2 separate regions of the Homo sapiens genome follow, and region 1 is linked to region 2. Evidence: fine-mapped expression QTL. A gene starts in region 2. The other region holds a variant in brackets. All regions are shown on one strand. Distances are from middle to middle.

Region 1 (2,906 bases), 69 kb before region 2:
TGTAAAAAACATTTTTTACATAGGCTATACAGAAACAGGTCTGGATGGGGAGGTTAGATTTGGCCCAAAGTCTGTAGTTTGTTGACCCCTTCTCTAATATATATGGCCCAAGTCAGGCGCCGTGCACAGCTGGGTCTAAGAGCTGTGCTGATCTACAAAGCCCACATGAAGCTGCTGTGGCAGAAAGGGTCTAGAGCCTCACTGAGTCATGTCTTTTGGGGATAGATGGGTCTTCTAGGTGCCCATCAAATCACACCTTCTCGGGCTGCCTTCAGTGCACACCTATGAGACCAATCTTGCTGATCCAGGGCAGGAAGTCTAGTCCAGATCCACCCTGCTGTGTTACCCAGGAGCTCAGATTCAGTCTCAGAACCATCTGGATTGTTTTATTCTCATGATGTACTTAATCCTGATTGAAGTATAAATGAATAAACTGGCTGGGCGCGGTGGCTCACGCCTGTAATCCCAGCACTTTGGGAGGCTGAGGTGGGTGGATCACCTGAGGTCAGGAGTTTGAGACCACCCTGGCCAACATGGTGAAACCCCCATCTCTACTAAAAATACAAAAAATTAGCTTGGCATGGTGGCGTGTGCCTGTAATCCCAGCTACTCCGGAGGCTAAGACAGGAGAATCTCTTGAACCCAGGAGGCAGAGGTTGCAATGAGCCAAGATCGTGCCACTGTACTCCAGCCTGGGCAACAAGAGCGAAACTCCATTTCAAAAATAAATAAATACATAAATAAGCCCATTAAACATCACGAATTTAATGTGAGGCCAACATTCTTACTGGTGAGAAATGATTCTCCATCGTTCTTGGGAGAAAGTGACGCTGCCCGTCCTCAGGCCTGGGAGCTGCTGAGGAGGGGAGAGTGAGGAGGTTGGTTTATGTAAAAGGTGTGGCACTGCCACTCTGTGCAGATTCCTGGAGGATTCACCTGACTACTTATTGATTTTTCATTGAACAGCTTTCTCCTCGTTCAGACTGTGGGCTCTCTGAGAAGATGGGGAAACATTATTTGGGAGATTTACCCTTAGGGTGAAAATTATCTAAGCTTATTTCTCAATTTCCCTCTCCTCCCCTCATTTCTCATCTCTAATTTTTTTTCTTTCTTTTTTATTAAAATTTTTTGTAGAGACATGGTCTCACTATGTTGCCCAGGCTGGTCTTCAACTACTGAGCTCAAGCAATCCTCCTGCTTTGGCCTCCCAAAGTGCTAGGATTATAGGCATGACCCACTGTGCCCGGCCTCTTAATTTTTTAAGCATCACAGGTTGTATCCCCAGAAACCAGACTCTAAAGAGGCATTTCATGAAGGCGTGCCTGTGGGAGGGACCACACCTGTGGAAGGTAGGGGACAGAAGCAGGAGTGGGCAGAGCAGTGACGTTGAGCTACAACCCAAGGCTGACAGTCTCAGCAAACCTCACCAAGAGCTCTGGAGTTAGGTGGACTTTTAGAAACATGCCAAGCATGGCTGAGCTGGCCAAGCCCTTATGCTCCACCATCCATTGGTCACTCGATATGAGCTTCCCCAGGCA[T/C]GAGTGTGCTATGGTCTGAATATTTGTGTCCCTCCAAAACTCGTATGTTAAAATGCTAACCCCCAAGGTGATGGTATTGGGATGTGGGGCCTTTGGGAGGTGATTAGGTCACAAGGATGGAGCCCTCGGGATGGGATTAGTGCCCTTATAGAAGACACCCCAGAGAGGTCCCTCCCTTATCCCTTCCACCACATGAGGATACAGTAAGAAGACATTCTCTATCAGTTAGGAAGCCAACCCTCACCAGGCATCAAATTTGCTGGTGCCTTGACTTTGGCCTTCCCAGCCTCTAGAATTGTGAGAAATACATTTCTGTTGTTTTTGAACTACTTAGTCTCTGGTAGGATAGCAGCCCAAAAGGACAAAGATAGGGCATGTCCTTGGGTGAGGCAGCTCTCTGCAGCTCAGTCACTTTCTGAGAGGGCTAAGAGCTACAGGCTGACTGCAGCAGCACTTCTAGCAGCTGGGGCCTGATGTCCTTCACTGTCCTTTCTGGGCAGCATATCACAGTATCCACTGCACACCACTCGGCTATCATTCTGTTCAGATACTTCTTGACTGGTCTTTCTACTTCTAATTTGTTCCATGTAGAATCTATCCTAAACACTACTTCCCTAATCTTTCTTAAAGGAAAATATTGGTAAAATATTTCATAGTCTGTCATTATGAATAATTTTATATGTCATTCCCCTGAAAAGAGGTGTTACAAGGTCAAGTTTTTTCAGTTATGCAGGAAATGTAAGTGTGTAAAGAAGCAGGATGAGGCCAGGTGTGGTGGCTCACGCCTGTAATCCCAGCACATTGGGAGGCCAAGGTGGGCAGATCACTTGAGGTCAGGAGTTCAAGACCAGCCTGGCCAACATGGCGAAACCCCGTCTCTACTAAAAATACAAAAAAAAAAAAAAAAAACCCACAAAAATTAGCCAGGTGTGGTGGCAAGCACCTGTAGTTCCAGCTACTCGGGAGGCTGAGGCACAAGAATCGCTTGGACCCAGGAGGTGGAGGTTGGAATGAGCCAAGATTGTGCCACTGCACTCCAGCCTGGGTAACAAAGTGAGACCCTGTCTCAAAAAAAAAAAAAAAAAAAAAAAAAAAAAAGAAGCAGAGTGCAATACAACATGGTATGATGGGGTCTTATTTAGTTTGATTTAGTTTGCCTCCACTTCACCCCACTGGTGAGGGAGGGATTCCGCCCTAGAGTTGAGAGGATGGTTGAATGTACAACATCCAAGCCTAGACAGATGAGATGGGCAGCAGGTAATTAGTCACATATGCTCATGGCCCAGGGAAGGACGACACTGCCCCACAGAGAGCCACGTGGGGGTTGCAGCTGGGAACAGAGTGAACCACCAGGAAGCTGTGGGAGGC
Region 2 (2,906 bases):
CTTTCCTTACTTTTGGCAACAAGTGAAACCTGGAAGCTCATAACAAAACTGCAAGAACCTTTAAGTGGACAAATAATAACCCGTGTCCTTGTTCTCTCATTTATGCCCAGATTTGTGGCCTCAGGAGCCAGAAGTACACCTTGATCTTTATGTTTACCTTGAGACAGCAATGAAGGGATGAAGGAATGAATGAGTTTATATTTCAATTAGGCGTGAGAGATGGAGGTGGTTTAAAAAAAAATAAAAGACAAGATAGCAGTTTTGACTGGGATAACAGCATCCTTTCATAGAATAGCCTCTAGACCTGGAAGCTGGAAGGGACCTACAGGGAAAATGTGTTGAACAAATGCCCTCTGCGTAGTGCATTAGTATGAGTACACCAGCAAGATCAAGATCGTCAGGATGCCCCATCTGCTGCTATCTTGACTTTAGGCCTGTGCCACGCACCGTTTTGCCATGACTTTCCGCATAGCACCAGGCCAAAAAGAACTGCAGAGTTTTGAGGGCAAGGCCGGTTTCCAGCCCAGAATCTGCAATGATCCCTCCTTGACAAGTCAAACAGAGTCACCCAAACAAGCGTGGCACGCAAACCTTTAGAGTTCAGCAAACCGAGGGCTGAGTTACCAAACCGTGTCCTTTCAGGGCATGCAAAAGGCTTTTCCTGCTCTGCTTCTACAAGGTAGTCAGGAAGCCAAGCTATTTGCCTTGGGTAGGGCTGGGTGGGGGTGGTGAGGTGGGGGCGCAGCAGGTTGTCCACACCCGGTTGCCAGTCTGAACCTGAGCCGCTCCAACAAGCGAGCCCTTCTCCGCGGCCCTTTGGCTCAGGGGAGCGCAGGCCGGCCTTCCTCCCGCACGCGGGCGCGGGCCAGCTGCAGATGGAGAACCCGGGGGGCGACCGCGAGCCCTCTGAGGCCCCTCAAGGGACAGGGCATGGGTGTGAGGGGTCGCGTGCGCCCCCTGGCGCCGGGTCCGCTGGGCGGGGTGGTGGGCGGGGACGGTGGGCGGAGGCGGAGGCGGGAGGCGGAGCCCCGGGGTTGGGAGTGCGGGGGTCGCGGCGCAGAGTGGGAGCCGGAGAGCGAGCGCGGCTGCAGCCGGCGGCATGGCTAGCACGGCTTCGGAGATCATCGCCTTCATGGTCTCCATCTCAGGCTGGGTACTGGTGTCCTCCACGCTGCCCACCGACTACTGGAAGGTGTCTACCATCGACGGCACGGTCATCACAACCGCCACCTATTGGGCCAACCTGTGGAAGGCGTGCGTTACCGACTCCACGGGCGTCTCCAACTGCAAGGACTTCCCCTCCATGCTGGCGCTGGACGGTCTGCATCCCCGCGGCCCCCGCCCTCAGCCCTCCTTCCTTGATGGCCAGCCCGCTAGGCGCCCTCTCGCCCCCAATACCCCCAGCGGGACCCCTAGACTGGACTCCTCTGAGGCCCGACCCGTCTCTCCCAACAGGGCCTTAGGGAGCCAGGGACGCTCCTGGTGCCCGCCCTCTCCTGATGGCTGTCTCGCGGGGCGCCTGTTCGAGCCTGGGACCCCGGGAGGGGGGACACGCAGACAGGCCCGGGTTGGTGACTCCCAGGCGTCGGGGGATGGGGAAGCTTTGCGGTCCTGAGAGTCAAGGAAGCGGCTGCCCTCCCCCACCCCCCATATCTTGGGGACCGCTGGGACCCAGAGTTCATGCTGCAGGGGCTTGTCTCCTCCACCTCCCTCCCCTACGTTCCCCGAAGGCTGGGTTCTGATAAAAATGGTGTCATTGCAAGCCAAATCCGTTTGTCCTGACCTCCCTTGAGCCATTTCGTTGGTTCTTTTAAAAGTAGGCGGGGGTGGGGGTTGAGAGGTTGGAAGCGGGAAAACATATTGCAGAATTTGTTGTTGTTATTGTTTCCCTTTAAAGAGCTTCTACAAACTTGTCTGCCTAGGCAACACTACAAACACTTCCTCCGAGTTTTAGGAAAATAATAGCCCTTGCGGTGCCGCGATGAGTCCGCAGAGGGTAGGGAATCTTGGGCCGTGAGAGCGTGGCGCCGGGAGCTGACCAGTTCTGCATCCGAGTCCCCGGTGCCTGCTGCTGTCCTGGGTTGTTCCTTTGTGGAGGTTCACCTGCGTTGCTCTGGTTAGTCAGGCCTTATGCTGGTAGCAGCTGGTGGATATTCACACAGAACTCTGGCTCTGTTGAGTTTCAAGACAACAGCCGATGTCAGCCCGGTCCCATTGATTGCTCAAGTTCTAGGCCCGTTGCTTCCAGGATTTTACAGCAAACGAATCCTGGCAGAAACTTAAGAGGAGTTATTTACATTACATATTTCTAGATTTGAGGTGTTTTTTTCTTTTATTACCGCACTTGCAGGTTTTGTTTACATAGCTGGGTAAATGAAAGAAAATAGTTGATTCCTCTAAGATGGGGTTTGCCACGAAGAGCAAACTGTTGCTCAACGTGGTATTTGATGGAACCTCCGTATAAGGAATACGCATCTAGTTTTAGAAGGGTGGCGCCCGGGTCCGTGTCCTGTTCGGTAAAATAAGCAGCCGGAACAGTGTTTATTCCCCAGCATTACCGTTGAATTTCCTGTGGTTTGTAGAGCACGCATCCAGGTAGATGAACAGGCATTCTCTTGTTCCTGTGATTTATAGTCAGCAATGTGTTACTGTCCTCTGAACACTCTTCTGTTGTAACTCTATTGTTCTCTGAGATAGTGTGCCAGATAGGTACGCTTCCTTCTGTAGGACAGTTGGGGGACAAGGGAGAGAAGGAAATGAATGCTCTATGAATATTATTAAGTGCAGAATAATAAAGTTTTCTCCTACATGTCTGCAGTGAGAGTGGAGGTGGTACCATACCTGTTTGGGGGCAGATCGGGCCGGGAGTGAAGAGGAAGTAGGAATAGTTGTCCTGGTTAGCTGGG

Alleles and levels. Positions count from the first base shown, and alleles are read on the strand shown. Sizes are in standard deviations (SD) of each study's normalised expression.
For the expression in tibial artery of the gene that starts at base 1,066 in region 2, T is the high allele of the variant in region 1 and C is the other (moderate effect, 0.52 SD a copy in GTEx).

What was found.
Region 1: its variant is fine-mapped to the expression of CLDN10 in tibial artery (GTEx, PIP 0.99).

The regions. Positions count from the first base shown.
Region 1 is chr13:95,482,260-95,485,165 of GRCh38, forward strand. All of the region lies in intron 3 of CLDN10-AS1 (CLDN10 antisense RNA 1), which reads right to left. It also overlaps a transcript of CLDN10 not described here. Among named protein-coding and RNA genes, the nearest start is that of CLDN10-AS1, 50 kb to the right of the region's middle. The variant T/C (reference allele first, on the strand shown) is at 1,539.
Region 2 is chr13:95,551,655-95,554,560 of GRCh38, forward strand. CLDN10 (claudin 10) reads left to right here and starts at 1,066. Exons shown (of 5, transcript NM_006984.5): 1 at 1,066-1,319. The coding sequence starts at 1,100.